Regions from separate parts of the Homo sapiens genome. Here regions 1 and 3 are each linked to region 2. Evidence: fine-mapped expression QTL. A gene starts in region 2. Each other region holds a variant in brackets. All regions are shown on one strand. Distances are from middle to middle.

Region 1 (5,923 bases), 910 kb after region 2:
GGCTACTACCACTTTCAGCACCCAAAATACACTGCCTCTTGGAGCCAATAAGAATTCTATCTTATTTGGTACTGATCAGTTTAGCTAAAAAAAAGAATTCTATCTTGAACACTCATCTATACTCACTTCCAAATTTGGGAACATTTGTAAGTGTAACTCAAAGCAGTAGATCTGGCTTTTAAATAAAAAGTTACATTTAAATCAATCTCTGCTCTTCATAAGCTAAATACCATTTGTCATTTTTCAGCCATCATTTGAGTTTCACCCACGCACCAGCCACAGATTCTGGGCCATGGTGAGTCTGTGGTCAGCCTGTTGTCTGGTCAGCTTGCTAAAGATAACCAGCTAACTTACTGGCTCAGGGCTAACACAAAGAGAACACAACAGAGGAGCCAAAAAATATATTTTAAAAAATTAATGTTAAAAGATGGTGTAAAAAGGCTCATACTTTGAAATAAACTAAAATGTTCCCTGCAAGAGTAACTATGTCAGGATAAAAACAAACACATTTTTTTCTTTTATAGAAACTCTTTTTCACTGGTTGCAATACTTTGCTGAAGGGACCTTTGACTTCTCAATGGAAAGAAGCAATGTGAAATGGAAGCTGGGTGGGGAGCTCAGCCATGTGGCTCAGGAAAGACTGCTGTTTACCCCTTTCAAACCAGGATAGAGGAAGTTTCTTCATCACTTCAGAAAGGATACTGATTTCGTTATCTCTCTGTTTCAGAATATCTCGTAGCTTTCTATATTCTTCTTCTTTTAATGGTTCTTGACAATCTTGGTCTTTGCTTTCAGAGGAGACTGTATTGTTTTCAAGGATCTTCTTGTCATTCAATAGTTTCTGTAAGATAAAATAAGAGCTTAGTACCCATATCTCTAGTCCAAATTTCTTTGTTTCTTTGACTCTTTTTCCTTTAACAATTCCCTGCACACATCAGGCATGTGTGACCTGTCTGATGCAGGTGCGATGTCTTTGCGATGCAGTTGCTTTTTTGGCTTGGCATGTTTTCTCCCTTCTACCTGCCTTCTTTCCCCTCCTCCTTCCTCAACCCTCTCTCCCCATCTTATCTCTCCTTCCCTAAATTGGGAAATGCCTACTCAACATTATCTCTTCTTGGACTCCTTTCCCTTTCTCTATACATCATTCCACTTAATTTACACTTTTATTCTAGTACTTATCATGTATTGTGATTATTCTTTACAACATCTGTCATCTCCATGACTTGCTTATTAAACTTTGTCTTATCTATACCTGGCCCTTAGTAACTCACAACAAATGTTTATTATCTTAAAGAAGTATGCAAAAATACAAGTGAGCTAAAAGTAAAAGTGATTATATTCCCAGCCCCTTGTCATGAAAATTAAAACCTAAGGCAGAGAAAAACTGAAATATCATATGGGTATATCAAACTGCTGAAAAAATACAGAATGCAATTCTCTTGATATAGCTTGAAAATAGTTTTTTAAAAAATATGGAACTATTCTGTGTAGAAGGTAGAGATTCCTGACAAAAGAATTAGAAGTCCATGGCCTGAGTTTATTTATTGGCAAGTAAGATACAATCTCTGAAGAAACTCAGTGATAATCATACTATTGATTCAAAGATCGTACCATTTTCTGGACATGCAATGCTGGATCCTAACCTTCCAAGAACTGGTCAACTAGAAAAGTTTTTTTGCAGCTTGAACATGGCTGAAAATGGCTTCTATTGGGGAAACATTTAAGTTTACCTTTAAATGATGAAAACAGTGATGAACTTTACGCATATCCGCGCCAACCTCTAATCTACTGTCTGAATCCTGGTCTTCCAAAAAGGATGTTATTAGTTTTTCCAGCCTAAAAATACATAATGTATGAGAAGCAACTGTGAGCTAGAAGCTTTAAAAATTCTAATGGCATTATCTAGTTGGTTAACATTTGAAGTACAGAATATTGTTCCCACCTCTTTACAGAAGTACAGATTTGAGTATAAAAATTAAGGGAAAAGAAACATTGACAAAGTGAAATTTATAGTGAAGCCATTATTTGACTAATTTCCAGTGAATTTTCTTATGAAGCTTTCAATATAGAAATCATTTGATTTCTATGGTCCATCCATTCTAGCCACTCTGAATTTCTATGCCCCTGTGCCTGGCTGCTGCATTGCTAGAAAAAGTAATGAGAATGTATTTTAAATTAATTTCACTAAAAATGCATGTGACTCCGCTTCAGCTGGCACCTCAGTGATACCCCACTATTTTTTTAATCATTCCAGGTGATCTTCTATTCTTCACAGTGCCTATTCCAAATCTTTCTACAGCCCCCAAGCCTGCCACTACTCTTTCACTCTCTGTCAATAAAGTCACTTCTTTATTGGTGAAAGCCATGCAGACTCCTTTGTTTCCTCCTCCTTTGCCTCAGAGTGTCTCTGCCTCACTGCTCAGGCCCTCTTCCTGCTTTTATAGATTGTGGATATTCTTCCTCTTTCTGAAGGCCAGTTTCTCCCCTGGGCTCTCTCTCTGCTTCTTCCAGGGCTTATCTAGTTAATTACCTCTTTTCCCTTAATCATCTCTTTATCTCCTCTCTATACTGACTCCTTCCTCTTTGCTTACAATCATGTTGTTTTTCCTATCCTAAAACAAAATGAAATAGAAAACAAAACACCTCCCTTTGGAGGGACCATCCAACCACTCTATTCTAAAGTCCTAGTTTGGCCGGGTACAGTGGCTCACACTTGTAATCCCAGCACTTTGGGAGGCCCAGGTGGGCGGATCACTTGAGGTCAGGAGTTCAAGACCAGCCTGACCAACAGAGTGAAACCCCTTCTCTTCTAAAAACACAAAAACTAGCCAGGCAAATTGGCATGTGCCTGTAATCCTATCTACTTAGGAGGCTGAGGCAGGAGAATCACTTGAACCCAGGAGGCAGAGGTTGCAGTGGGTTGAGATTGTGCCACTGCACTCCAGCCTGGGCAAAAGAACAAGACCCTGTCTCAAAAAAAAAAAAAAAAAAAGTCCTAGTTTATTCATAGCACCACGTGCCAATGTAGCATTCTAGTACTTTGTATCAGAGGGAAATTCTTGGCTCTTATTTATCTTTGTTCTTCCCGTCCCCCTAACATTAGGTTCTCAACACAAATATGTTCACTAGTTACTGGATTCACTGCCATGGACATGGTTCCCCTCTAGGTTGAGATGGAACTCTTAATAAGGAAGGTTTAAGGATGACAATCAGTATCTATGATGTTATGTATCATAATACAGCAGCAGCATATCTTTCTAGTACTATTATGAAAATATTTGCATACTTTCAGCATCTTTTAAAACTGTATCTACACATTTCTCTTCTGCTGTTACTATCAGCCCACCCAGATAAAATGTAATGATTTCTATCATAGAACAGCCTTGGATTTCATTTGTACCTCTTGTAATTTGTGACATGTGACAGCTATATATTTACAAGTGTGAGACAATTTATACCGTTACTTTTAAGGAGTTTCTTTAGGTGAAGAGATACTTATTTGCACTATTTGCTGATTGACAGTGTGTTTCCTTTTGGATTAGAGCTTCAAACCATCAGATATACAGAGGGATTTATTCCTGATACATTTTT[T/A]AAAAAATCATGTAAATTATTATGAAAACACATGTTTATGAACAAAATTCCAAACAATGCAGATGTGAATATATTAAAAAGTGAAAACTCCTCCCACTCCCCTGCCACCATTCCCCTCCACCTTTTTTTAAAAAAATTTGATACCTTGGGAAATCCACTGTTAACAGTTAAAATATATTATTCTTATTCTTAATGAAGCAGATACCTATATTTATATATTCATTTATACATTTTGGTTTGTTGTTTTTACAAAAATGAGATCATAGTCTGAATAATGCTTTACATCATTATATTTCTAAAGCATTTATGGCAGATGAGCTTTTCCATCAGTGCATACACAGTAAAGGTATTTCATTTCTAATGGCTATATAATATTCCATACTATGGATGTACTACTATTCCTCTCTTGATGGACACTGAGGTGACATACTCATACAGTTGCTACTTTCCTCTGTAACCCATGATGAGACCTTGATCTACAAACCTGACTTAATGAGGTTTAAAAAATAGTAATGTTTAGCTACTTGTATTTTCCCTGAATACATAGCAGAAATTTTGAAATTTCAAAAATCACTGTGGGTTCTAGAATATACACTCGTTTTCTGGAGTGAAAGCACTTTGTGATTTCCAGAGTCCATAAAATTTCTAGCAGACAATATTAAGTTGGAAGTAATGGTTAATCAATTCTTTCTTCTTGCTTTTTCTTTAGAAAACAACTTTTGAATAGTTTAATCACAAGTACATATTCTAGGAAACGTTCTCTGAAGGAAGGCTGAAGTGGACTCCTAGCTCAGAAGGAAACCTCGTAAGATACAAGCCTGCTGATGAGCTGGACCACTCACAGATTGCTCACGTGCACTGGGCTTTGGTATTCCATCAAGGCTCCTCTCCCACACAGCAACACTGTAGAATACAAGGAGGACCAGGGACATGATCCAAAGAAATGGGCAAGAACTTCTGCCTGAGTAAAAGAACTGATCGCTTTACTCTTTCTGGGACTTGATTAGTCTAGTACATAACTAAGAATGAAGATCAGCCTTTTGACATGCTATTTTGCTTTCAGCACTTGAGAACACAAAGAAACATGCCTGGTCTTTCCTTCATACATTTGATTTACTGTTGGGTTTATTTCCTTATCAGGCAAGGACTTGGTCTAATAATTAAAATGCAGAAAAATGCTTAATTCAGATGTTTTCGTTGTACTCCTCTAGTAGTTGAGAGTGAACAAATGAACCCAAATTCCCCACATTTTCCTATCTACCAAAATAGTGTCCAAGTTTATACCTAGTCCCTGCTCCCTCTAAGGGGTCTCCCAGCTGCCAGAACTCTGCTGAACAGTGGAAAACTGTTTGCAGAAAAGTCTCGCTAAGGAGGTCAAGTGAGTACAATAAAGTCTATTTTTTAGGACAAGCCCAAGTCAACAAGAGCTTTCCTTATTCTCTACTTACACTAGAAGAAAAGAAGGAAGAAAAAAGAATCCTAGGGGAAAGAGAAAAGAAATACACACCATTCAGTAACAAGAAATATTGTAATAATTTAGTGTGTCTGAACACATGACTTCGCTGATGGTAGGTGATGGTTTGATGTCTGGTGACTATACAGATCTCAGCCAAATTGACTGCTAATGAAATACCTCTGACAGCCTGTGTCCTGGTTCAGCAACTCCATCATATTAGAAATTTTGATATATGGCCACATAATTAGAACTGACCATATTTCCTAACATGTGCTTTACCTTCTTGAGGCCACTGCACTCCCCTCTCTGCTCCTTATATTCCTTGTACAAAAAAAAAAAGCTCTCTCTGTAGCCATATGTCCCTAAAAATTTAGGTTTAATAGCATGAATAAAAAGACAAAGCAAGCTTCTCATCATTAATGACAGCCAACATTGAGCATGCACTAAATGCTGGACACTCTTCTGTGCTATTTGCATATATCATTTCCTTAATTTTTACAACAACCCATGAGAAAAGTGCTATTATTATCCCCATGTCATAGGTGAGGAAACTGAAGCACAGAGATATTACGTATCTTGTCCAAGCTCACACAGCAAGCACACAGGTAAAATCCAAGTTTTGAAGCACAATACTTACCATACTATAACAAAGTTACTCAAAGTATTTGAATACCATATTGGGTGATGTATTTCTAAAAGGGAGAACCCACACCTGCAAGCATTCATTGAGGAGGCAAATAGGTGGACGAAGAAGTGGGAAATAACTGAAAAGCAGTTGCTTAGATCTTAGCAAGGCCACGGACCCCCATGACTTGTAACGGCAAAAAAAGTTGGGAAGGAATCAGAATGTGCTGTATTTGAAGATTACTTAAATTA
Region 2 (5,923 bases):
GCCCTCTCCCCTCTCTTGCCCACAAGAAACAACTCAAGATATTTCCAAAAGCGCTATTTAATTTTAATATTCAGCAACTTTGCTTATGCTGGCCCCTGGAATGCTCTCTTCCACCTCTACATGTGGCGAAATTTTATTTAACCCTCAGAGCTAAGCTCCATCCCCTTCTTCTCAACATGTTCCCTATCAGTTTTTTCTCCAGCCAAAGCACTCTACTCCCCCAGCACATTATTCATTCCAAAAGTGATTAATTTGTCACAGCACATAATGGTTAGTGGTTTATCTCTTCTGATGAACACTTAGTATGCTGAGCATATACTGTGTCTTAACTTCTTTGTCTTCCCAGCACCCAACGAAGTGTCTCGCCATAGCCAGCACCCAGTAAGTATCTGCTGAGTTGTTAAATAATGCAACATTTGCAGTTGTAACTTTACACATCTTGGTTAGCAATTCAACTTCAGGTTTACATACCACTCAAAAGAATTTTCACATAACAGAAGATGTTATAAATAAAGACCAAGGGTTCAATATTCAGCAGCAGGGTCTTTAATTATTCTGAAATCTCTTTGGTCAGTATTTTTAAGCATCGTTCATCAGAAAGACTCCTTTCCCAACTAACATTTGTATATTTTACAGGATCAGCAGTAAAGACAAACCTCAGAGAGATAATCCCAAGCAAAACTATGTCACTGAGTGTGACTGGATGACTATTGGTACATCATTTCAGTAAATTTCCAATACAATGGCCCAAGTACATCAGGTAGATTTTAGATAATGAGACATGCACCACTGACTACCTAAAATACATGCACATTAGTGAGGCATCGATTCCAATTAGTAATTGAAATCAAAAGTATATTAACAACCTGATATTGGTTCAAGCGTAATATCCTTTACTTTCAAGTAAGGATAACACTTATTCTTGTCAAAGACTGTACTCTGATTAATACAACCTCTATCCCACCTTACAAGAAGGCTGTATCTTGTTAACAGTGGGATGCTGATAAGCCCGCCTTAATCCTTAACACTTTGCCTTCCCAACCTGCTAAGCCATCTCTCTCCAGTATTCCCCTATAAGAGACGTTCCGCTCCAGTTACCAGACATAAAAGTCGTCTTGGTATATCCTCCAACAACCAAATTCACATTATTATTTTCTCAGCTCCTGGTTTATTTCCTAACAAATTTTAACTTCTTTCAGAGACCAAGTCAAATCTTGCCTCTTTCAAAGAGTTCCCTAACTCAGCCTACACATCCTATCTTTTCTGATTTTCTACCACATTTATAGTCCTCAAACAGCACTGGTTACCTGCTACTTAACTTGGTTTTATAATTATTTTATACATCTCCTAGCTAGACTACTGCTCTCAAAGGGAAAAAAAAGACAGGTCTTCTATGTCATTTTTCACTCCATAATCCTCCTCCCACACCTATCATGATACTGGGCAGAGGGAGGCACATGTATTAAGTACTTGATGGACTGAACTCAATGCTTTCTATACATAGATACACCACTTGAGCATAGTGTGCTATATAACAAATATCCATTGCATGCCTACTCTGTGGCAAGCACATTTTTCCTATGTGTTAGACATAGGGCAAGGAGGAAAACACAGATGACTCCTGTCCTAAAAGCTATTACAGTGGAGGGAGGAAGACACTTTGAATTCCGAGTAATCTAATAAGTGTTACAAAGCAAGGTTATTACTGGTTCCAAGAGGTAACATACTTTACAGATTCTCAGTTATGAAACAGAATCATAGAATTTTAGACCTAAATGAGAACCTTGAACTTATTTTCCTCTATCCTCTTACACAAAACATTAGATTTCAGTACAGCCTATCTTTTCACTGGTTCTACAAATTGCCTTAATCAACAGAAAGAAAAGACTGGCTTCTTCCCTGTCTCCAATATTCCTCGCTCCCAAGTATGGTAACCACAACCCCTATACATCTACCCATGATAGAGTCCAGAGCACTGAGAAGACAGCACAGGGCTGAGGATGAGCTACACCTTTACATGCTGGGTTCTCCCATCATCAACACTTTCCGCCCACACAGTGAACAGAATCCGTATTTTCTGCCCAGAAAATAGCAGCCTGTACTGCCTTTAGGAAAAACAAACAAAACATGCTTCCATACTTCCTTGGATCTACTAATGACAAAAGCACAACACGGTTCTGGGAAATATAGCAAGATAACTAAGTCTATGAGGAAGTAAGAAATGAGGATGCCTATCAGCACCTTGGTCTCAAAATCTGTAACAACAATGTACTAAAACGCCAAGGAAACACATGCACATACATGTGAAGTTAGAAACTCTAGGCAACAGGTTGGCTGCCCCGGATCTATACTGACAGGTCGCCCTCCCAAGGTCGTGGGTGTGTCTGATGCCGCACGCAGGCACTGATTCACAACTCTCTCCATAACAACCAGCTCCTACTCAGAGGCTGGCCAGGGCAGGGGAGATGAGGGCCCCAGCAGTCCCAAACTTTCCAAACCCCCACCCCGGGGTCCCGGGTTTCGCCTCCTCAGTCCCAGGCAACGTCGTCTCAGACAGGATACGAGACTGCTAGGGAACCTGGGCTGCCCCTGATTCGAACTCCTCTCTTTGGGAGGCTGGTAGAGCCACCCCGAATCCCCGAAACGTCTACTTCCCACTACACCTTCGTGGACTGCGAACGGGACGGCTACCGCTCTCCCAGAGCACCCGGGCCCAAGAAATGACCCTCGTCAGGCCCCGTCCCAGCTCCTCCCCCGCCCCCGGAAAAAGCGGCGGAGGGGCGGGGGGCGGTGCGCGCGGATACGGCGGGGGCGCGCGTCCCCGCGCCGCAGGTGCGGCCAGGCCCCACCTCCCCTGCAAGGACCCGGCTACTCACCCCAGCGATGCTCCTCTGAGACCAAGCTGCGACACAGACGCCTCTTCCGCCCGCTCCGCACCCCTCTCTGCGCCACCGCCCCCTTGGCCGCTTCCGTGGCCGCCGTCCTCGCCGCCGCCCCGGCTGCTGCGGCGCGCGTCCGCTTTCACGCACTCCGCCGTGGCCGCGCACGCGCCACTGCGCGCTGGCGTCACTTAGCAACCGATCGACAGCGGGCTGCTGGGTCCGGCGATGCAGGCCCAGAAAGTCGCCTAAGGCAGCTTCCGCGGCTTTTTCGCATCGGCCCGACCCTCTGCCCCTCCAGAACAGGGGGCCCCAGGGTGTGGCTGCCCTGCCGGCACCTGGCTCCGGGTAAGTCGAGTCACCACACGTCACTGTATGGCGTCACCGGCGCACGTCACTACGGATGAGAAGGTCCTGGGCGCCTGTGGAGTGACCTCGTCCAGACCGCCGCAGACCCGATCGGCAAGTTCTTGGAGGTGCAGGAAGGTTCTCCAAGGAGTAGGACCAGAAAGGGATGAGAGCGCGAGCGCGGTTAATGTCGAGGCTGCTAAGTGATGCTCGTTAATTTCGCAGCAGGGTGTGACTGGCCCAGCCTTGACTCTCAGTTTCCTCTCTCAGTAAATGGGCATAATAATACCGGTCCAGCCTACGCTGGAGAATTGTGAGGTGAAAATGAAATAAGGTATGCAAAGGTACTTTGTAAGTATAAAGCCCATTTGACTTGGTGGCTCAAGCCTGTAATCCCAGCACTTTGGGAGGCCGAGGTGGGCGGATCGCTTGAGCTCAGGAGTTCGACACCAGCCTGGGTAACATAGTGAAACCCCGTCTCTACAAAAAAGACAAAAACTAAATGGGCATGTTGGCGCGCGCCTGTAGTCACAAATGCTCGGGGGGCTGAGGTGGGAGGATCGCTTGAACCTGGGGAGTTCAAGATTGCAGTGAACCGTGATCGCGCCGCTGCACTCCAGCCTCTGCAGTGAGAGCAAGACACTGTCTCAAAAAAATGTATTTATCTATCTACATAGATAAGAGTCCTAGAAATCCGGGTGCAGGTCTGACTGTAGCTGGTGTAGGAAAGTCAGTTATCCCCGACGCTGGAGCAAGCTAGGGGACCGCCCTTGCAGTTGTTGGAGGAGACAAATTGGGAAGGACTTAATTCCGGGCAAAGGAAGCTTCATGAGTAAAAGTAGAAAGTGAAAATGGTCAGGAAAAGCAAGGCTTGGGGCAGGGAGACCCATTTTTAGGCCATTGCAGTACTCCAGACAAGTGATAAGAACATTAAACAAGGCATTGGCAGTGGGAATAGAGGAGGGGATAGATGTTAGCGCCATTAAGGTGGTAGAATTCACAGCACTGAGTGCGGATAAATGAGTAGGCCAGGTTTCTAGCATGAGTGCTGAGGTAGACAGTGGTAACATTTAGCAAGATGGCAAGCTACATGAGTCTTGATTATCCACAAGTGTCTAAGTTACTATTATAGATAGTGATGGTGACATTTCTTAGGAGGATGACCAGATATGTGGAGTATGATGATGAGTTCAAATATGGATATGTTTGTTAGGGAAACATTTACTCTCCATTCACAATGTCTTTCTTCCATATGGAATGATATCCATTAGTGTAATACTCTCCTGGTTTCTCTTATACCTGTCTGCAACTCACTCTTGCCTAGAGGAGTGACTTCCTGATTGGTGAACTTAAATGGGAGAAACTGGACATGTGGCATCTATCCCATTCTTTTTCTCTTAAAAGATAACTATCTTCAGGGAACTGTCCTGGTGTTCTTTTCCGTTTCTTCTGGAGCAGGGCCTGTGGGTAGGGACAAGGGTGCCTAGTCCAGGGCTACAAAGAGAGTATATGTATTTAATTCCAGAGTTTGGCATTAGGAAGCTGTCTGTCCACAGATAATATTTAATACCAGCTTTGTCAGCTGTGTTACACAGAATAATGATCCCCCCCAACCAAAAAAAAAAGGATGACCACACCCTAATACTCAGAACCCATGAATATGTTATATTATGTGGCAAAAGGGACTTTGCAGATATGATTAAATGATGTATCTAGGGAGATTATCCTGGATTGTCTGACTGGGCTGGAGGCAGGAGGGTCAGAGTCAGAGAAGGAGATGTGATGATGGAAGCAGAGGTCAGACAGAGATTTGAAGATGCTATACTGTTGGCTTTGAAGATGGACCCAAGAAACGCAAGCAAATTGTAGATGCGGGAGAAGGCAAGGAAATGGATTCTTCTCTAGCACCCTAAGAACACAGCCCTGCCAACACCTTGATTTTAGGACTTCTGACTTCTAGAACTGCGAGATAAGAAACTTGTATGTTTTAAGGTACCAAGTTTGTGCTAACTTGTTACAACAGCAATAGGAAACTGATACAGTCAGTAATAAAGATAATAGTTGGTTTCCTGCAGCTTTCTCCATTACCTGGAAAAGAAGGGTACAATTCAGTAGGTCCCCTCAGAGACTATAGCAATATGACTGTGACCTGATGGAACCTCCACATCTAGAGAAAAATGTCCAATAAACACTCAAACTGTACAGGTCTATGAATGAGGAAAGAGGTTGAGTTAAAATAGATTTGGAAGAAATAAATTAATAATTGGTAATTTAAGCCCGAGGCATGGATGAGATCAATCAGGGAGAAAATACAGAAGACATAATAAGGAGAGGCAAGGATAGGGCCCCTGGAGAGCACTAACTTTAAAAGGAGGTGCAGATGATCAGAAGCCCAAAAAGAAGTCTGAGGAAGAATGGCCAGAGAGAGAAAAGGAGAACTAGGTGAGCCTAATGCCTCTGAAGCCAAGCAAGCAAGATGGAGAGGGGTCAACAGAGTCAGAGACCACAAAAAGGCCAAGTATATCAAGAACTGGAAAGCATTCACTGGATTTAGCAACAGAAAAGTGATTGGTAACCAACAATAGCAAACTTCAGTGGGATAGTGGAGATAGATACCAAATCACTGAGATCTGAAAGGCAGATCAATATAGTGGATTGGCCTCTAGACTAGTTTGATGGGAGTTTTGAGATTCTAG
Region 3 (5,887 bases), 460 kb before region 2:
TGGCTTCTCCTCAGGAACGTGTCCACCCTGCCCCGGTAGCCCTCTGATGTCTGCCATCCTGTGTTCACACGGAAAGACAGTCTTCCAATTTAATCACGCAGTTTGATGCTACCCTACTATTTCCATATGGACAAATCACTCAAAATCAAGTTAAACTAGGAGGAAGCGGCTGACCCGTTGGCTCTTTCTAGAGCGCAGCTGATATGTCTTTGACACACCTGAAAGGAAACTCCCACGCCCTCACCCTCCTTTGATCAGGGTTGCAGGTTGGCGCCGAAGACCCAAGGACTGCAGTGCTGCTCACGTGCCATGCCGTCCTGGGGAGACTCCCAGGCTGATGCTGATGGCGACAGAGGCCGGAGCTCTGGGGACAGCGGAGGGGCAGGCAATGTTGTGCGCAGTTACCCAGGGCAGGCAGCACTGGAATGGAAATCACTAAGTAGGAGACGGAGCCACATCAAGCCACCATCGTCAAATGAGGTCCTTTTGATGAGGATTAGGAGAAAAGCTTCTTGGAACTGCTATTTTTCAGTCCCCAGTTGAGTACTGTGGTGTGGGGGAAGCACGGAGTCCCAGTTCTGCGTTCCTGACGCTGATGGGCAGGTGGCTGCCTCTCCAATGCTTCGATAAACACAACTGGAGGGGCAGCTAAGCCACGGCAGTCCCCGGCAGGTTTGGCCACGCCAGAACTCGGTATATGTTTATCTACATGGACTTCGGAACAGTGAATTAGCAGCGGGCATAGTAACTATTTCCTTGTCAGCCTCCCAAGCTTAAAGGCTGGATCCATGTCAGGAATGACAGGTGAGTAACTCAGCCACACGAGTGACTATTAACTCCAGTGTCCACAGGTTGATTTGCTTGTGTGCATTTGTGGCACTTCCTCTGTGGCCCAAGTGCCAGGATGAGCTGCATCCGTGTCTCATTTAGGAGACATGCACGATGGGTCTCTGTCCCCGCAAGCTGAACCGTTCAAAACCAAGGAAGGAAAATTATAGCATCAAAAGGGATTAAAACTAGTGATTTGCTGTTTGAGCATTTCAAATAGATCCGGAACACCTATGATTCACTGAGTGGAGAATAACTAAAACAAATAAAAAATCATTTAGTTGCCAGGGCAATGTATTCCAGCAGAATGAACACTCTATGGAGGCCCATTCCTAAAGGGTGCCTCCAGGTAGCAAAGGCCCAATGGCTTTCTCCTCCGCCTGAGTGTTTGCGTGCCATTTTTGTATTCCAACACAGGCCTGTCTATGACTTCCTCCTGTTCCCTGCGCCTGGGCTAGATTAGAGAGGTAGGGTGTTAATGGTGGACTTGATGAAGATTGAAGACCCATTTTCTCCCCCTTGAGACCTGCCTGATTTGGATAAATTGAGAAGAACAAAGCAGCCCCTTTCTGTCCTTGGGAGAAAACCTGTTCGGTGTCTGCTTTTGCAGCTAGGTCGGCTCCTCCCTGGAAAGGGGCAGAGGTGGGGGCAGTCAACAGAGACCCCTGCTCAGGGAGGAGACCGTTTCCTGCCGTTGCCCGAGCCCACCAAGTCACACCAGGCCCGCTGCCTCCTTTATTGGTGCTGCCGGTTGGGGGAGCGTGAGTTGGAGCCTGGGCTGGAGGGTAGTGAGCTGCCACTAGGCGCCCGCAGCGCATGGGAGTCGAGCTGCTGACCGGCCAGGCTGGTGTCCCCTGTCCCCGATTCCTCACTATTTTCCTCCTTCTGGCTGCTCTGCTGCTCTGGACACTCAAAGTGGACACAGTGGAACACCTGGGAGAGAAAAGGAAAAGACCCCATGAGTGAAGGGTCAGCATGCGGCCCTGGAGTTGCCGCAAGTTGGGATACTGCCCTGCCCAGCTTTGGGGGCCACCACGAGGGAGTTAGAGGAGGTCCTTCCCACTGCCCACGCCTGCCCCGGCGCAGACACCTGATGGCAACTAGCATGCTGTAAACACATTTTGATCAGTCAAGAGGAAAGGAAATGAGCCAGTGGCCCAAAAGTTAGAGACACCATGACACGGATTCCCACAAAATCTTCACACTGGATTACTCCGTTTTTGCCAACCTTTGTCTAATGGGCTCTTTTTTCTTTTTTAATTAATTTTTGTATTTGGCAGTTGGGTTAAAAGTCAACAGGAGTTGACTGGTGGTGGTGGTGGTGGTGGTTCGATTCTGTGAGGTTGTGGAAAGCAGGTCCACAGATAACGTCCACCATCTGTGTGGCATCTGCGTGGGTTGTCTCTGGGTATTCTGGTTTTCTCCCGCGTCCCAAAGCTGTGCACTTGAGGTTCATTGGTGTGTCTGCAGGGTCCCAGTCTGAGTGCATGTGAATGTGTGTGAGCGTGCCCTGCAATGGCATGGTGTCCTGTCCTGAGCTGGTTCCTGATGCATAGTTCTCCTGGCCCTGCAATGGTTGAGCACAGACCCTGCTAAGCAGCCGTGCTGGGGAGTGGACTTCAACCTCATGTGGCTCCAGCCAGCCTGGAACAAACGCCCCCAATGTGTAGAAGCCAGCCACCTGGCCGACAGTCACCCTCTAGGAGCTAAGAAGAGTTTGCATACCTGACAGCAGGTCAGCCTGGAAGCACCATGAACTCTGTGCCAACACCGTGCCAGCACTGTGCAGACAGGGCACAGCACCGAGCTCAGCGCCCCGCAAGCAAGGGTAAGCCATGGCCCTGACCTGGAGAGTAGACAACGTGCTTCGGGGGGTCCTGACATGCATGTGTGAGCTGTGGGGTGCAGGAGAGAAGGGCGGGGTGGGGGCTGTCGTTGCCACTGCACGAGCATGTGTGCACATACATACACACG[G/C]CCTTCTACCGTAGAATCAAGTTCACAGAGACAAATGTAGTATCAACTGCAGAATTATATTGAAAATATAAATTCCACGCTTACCTCCCTGCATCACTGTTTTTTCCATATTCCCACTTCAATTCATTTATTGACCACTGTTTTAAATTTCACATTTTCTCATATGAAGACTGAGACCGTGTCTTCCTGGTGTGTCCACTCTGTTTTGGGAGCTGCCATTTTCTCTTAGAGGGAGCTGATTTCTCTCCTTATAGGGCAGGGGCTCAGGCACGGTCCTCGCCTCCTGCAGACCCCTCACTGCCTCACGGCTGAAGCTGTCCCCACTTAGCCTATGTCTCCCTCCTTTTCCTTTCTTTCCTTCCTTCCTTTTTTATAAAATCTCCTTCTGTGGGTCCATCTGCAGGGCTTACCAGTCAACAACTGGAGGGGCTAGGTCCTAGGGGAAGGCCTTATGTGGAGATCTGAACACTATTTGGGCCATCAGCTCTGCCCTGGGCTAGGCCAGGGGAATCTGAGAATCATCCTCTAGGTGACAACCATTAATCCACTCCTTCATCAGCTTCACAATCTTGCAGCTCTTCAGTAACAACACCGCCCTGGGCATGTCGGCCACTCATGGGTCACTTGCCTTATAAGTGTTCCTTCTTCCACACCCAGGGATAGGTGAGGTCAGGCTCTGCGGGGCCAGGACACGCCTTGAGAGTGCAGTCCCGGTCCTCAACACCCCCCCCACTAAAGCTTCTCATAACCCAGCAAATACGCCTTCTCTTTTGCAGTATGACCCAGAGCCATATTCTGTTCCCACGCCCACACGCAGGACTTTTCAGGACAGGCTGTGTTTTACTGCTCCTTCCCCCTGCTGACACAGGAGCTCTTTATCCGGCCCCACCATGTTCTTTAATTGGTTATTTGTGTAATCCCTGCTCTCCCTGCTCGGTCAATATCTCCGGAGGCCGCTCCCCAGAGCCTCAGGCTGACACTAATCCTGGAATTGACTTACGTTTGTCCTACTCCTTATTACCTTTTCTCAAGCTCACTCCTCTGGTATTGAATGGTTTTTCTCTCCTTTTGCTCTTGCAACGTTCTCTACAGTCCTGTTAATTTCCAGGCCAGCTCTTCCCCCACCGGCCCCGCAAGCCTTCAGGGTGCCTCCCGCTCCGTGGCCCACCCCGCTGCCTGCCTCCTTCTACTGATCTGTCAGCTCCGATCTGACTCAAGGACCAAGGCTTAGTCGTCCTTCTACCTGCTCGGGTTCTTGCACAAGAATAAACAAATCGATAAAAACCCTGGATTGAGAGATAAAGTTAAAAAAGACCTCAGAGTGGCCTGGTGCTGCGGCTTGCTCTTCACAGCCGGCCTCTCACTGGAGGAGGGATCAGGGCGGGTCTCTGCTCCGCACTGCGCTGGTAAGAGCCTGGGAAGAGATGCTGTCTGTGGTGAGCACGTGATAGACATTCCACGACCCGACCTGTCGGTGCCCTGGTTCTCATTGTTTCTTCTCATTTCCAGCTGCATTTATCTCTTGTCTAACTTGGGCAGTGTTAAGGGCACAACTGTGTTTAGCCCATTAGCCAATTTGTTTTCAGATAATAATGCAAATGGCTGTTACTCCCAACACACCTAACAAGACTGACAGCCAATCTCAACTGCTTCTGTGTTTTCCTATGGATATTTCTTCTAAAGAACTCCTAACTATCTCTCTCCCTGATGCCACAGAGCTCACGGCAGGCCCTGCCATCAAGTTAGGGGACCCTGGAAGCCCCTGGAAGCCCTAGGCCGTAACTGCCTGACTGAGCTCCCTGTGGCTCTGCAAGGAACTGGGGCCATCTCAGAGCTGCGTCCCAGTCTGTGGCCCCAGAATCCCAACTAAATGAAGTGCAGTCTCCCTGAGCATCTCCACCAAGCCACGCAGGTGCTGCCAGATTCAAAGGCAATACACAGGCAGGAGTGAGTTACCTGTATTAAATCACAAACTGTGTGGCGAAGATTCTAAGTGGAAAAGAGTGTTTTTACAAATGGATAGGCGGGTGAAGACACAGAACCTGCCATGGGTGGGGGTGGGCAAGCTACAGGTGACAGGTGGGGAGGGAACAGCCTCTGCACACCAACAGAGACAGGATGAACATCACATATGCAGCAGACACGGCCAGAGGATGACGCTGCACACGTGAGCAGGGTCAGGAGGTACACACGTACCACAAGCATGAAGCACCTCCTACGTGCCTGACTGGGCGAGGTCCCAGCTGCCCTCAGAGGGTGTACGGTCCAGTGAGGCCAGCAGACACATAAGCCAGGGAGAAGGAGCCCCAGGGCATAGAGGAGTGGGACCCAGCCAGGCAGGCGGTCAGGGAAGGCTTCCTGGGGGAGGAGACATCTGAGGTGAGTCTGGAAGGAAGAGGCAGCCAAGCTAGAGAGGATGGAGGAGGGGGGGACTTGGTGTGGAAGAAAAACAGGAAGAACTACACAGGTTCTCAAGCCAAAGGGTGGCAACAGAGCAAGGAGGGCCTGGGAGCAGCAGGGTGTGGGGGGGAGGGGTGGGGCAGAGGCCACACCCAATGGGACAGGGCGAGGGCCTGGCCTTAAGCTGGGCAGGGATCCTGATACTCTTGGACAAAGGAGGCTATTTATTTATTTATTTATTTATTTATGAGACAGAGTCTCGCTCTGTCGCCAGGCTGGGGTGCAGGGGGGCTATCTCAGCTCACTGCAACCTCCGCCTCCCAGGTTCAAGCGATTCTCCTGCCTCAGCCTCCTAAGTAGCTGAGACTACAGGCACGTGCCACCACACCCAGCTAATTTTTGTGTTTTTAGTAGAGATGGGGTTTCACCATGTTGGCCAGGATGGTCTTGATCTCTTGACCTCATGATCCGCCCACCTCAGCCTCCCAAAGAGCTGGGATTACAGGCGTGAGCTACCATGCCCAGCCTACGAGACTCTTTAAAAACTAATATTTCTTAAACTAAAAAAGTTATTTAAAAAGGAATATACATTTGTGGTGACAAATTCAAATAACAAGTATTTTAAAAATCTAGATGACAACAAACCTTTAAACCTTGGAATCCCCTGATTTAGCAATTTGGAATC

Evidence for each region. PIP is the estimated chance that this variant, and not a neighbour inherited with it, causes the effect.
Region 1: its variant is fine-mapped to the expression of BTBD9 in caudate (GTEx, PIP 0.98).
Region 3: its variant is fine-mapped to the expression of BTBD9 in testis (GTEx, PIP above 0.99). The same link has a PIP of 0.9 or more in T cells, aorta, caudate, cerebral cortex, iPS cells and nucleus accumbens.

The regions. Positions count from the first base shown.
Region 1 is chr6:39,543,853-39,549,775 of GRCh38, forward strand. It overlaps KIF6 (kinesin family member 6), which reads right to left. Exons shown (of 23, transcript NM_145027.6): 11 at 1,731-1,836; 12 at 703-841. Among named protein-coding and RNA genes, the nearest start is that of KIF6, 180 kb to the right of the region's middle. The variant T/A (reference allele first, on the strand shown) is at 3,592.
Region 2 is chr6:38,636,924-38,642,846 of GRCh38, forward strand. It overlaps BTBD9 (BTB domain containing 9), which reads right to left and starts at 3,006. Exons shown (of 11, transcript NM_001099272.2): 1 at 2,877-3,006. LOC105375044 (a long non-coding RNA gene) reads left to right here and starts at 3,472. Exons shown (of 3, transcript XR_926767.4): 1 at 3,472-3,561. RefSeq lists a silencer at 2,669-2,868 and enhancers at 2,968-3,468, 3,269-3,348.
Region 3 is chr6:38,173,422-38,179,308 of GRCh38, forward strand. It overlaps BTBD9 (BTB domain containing 9), which reads right to left. Exons shown (of 11, transcript NM_001099272.2): 11 at 1-1,761. The coding sequence ends at 1,564. It overlaps LOC124901315 (a long non-coding RNA gene), which reads left to right and starts at 1,757. Exons shown (of 2, transcript XR_007059571.1): 1 at 1,757-2,656; 2 at 3,895-5,887. The variant G/C (reference allele first, on the strand shown) is at 2,803.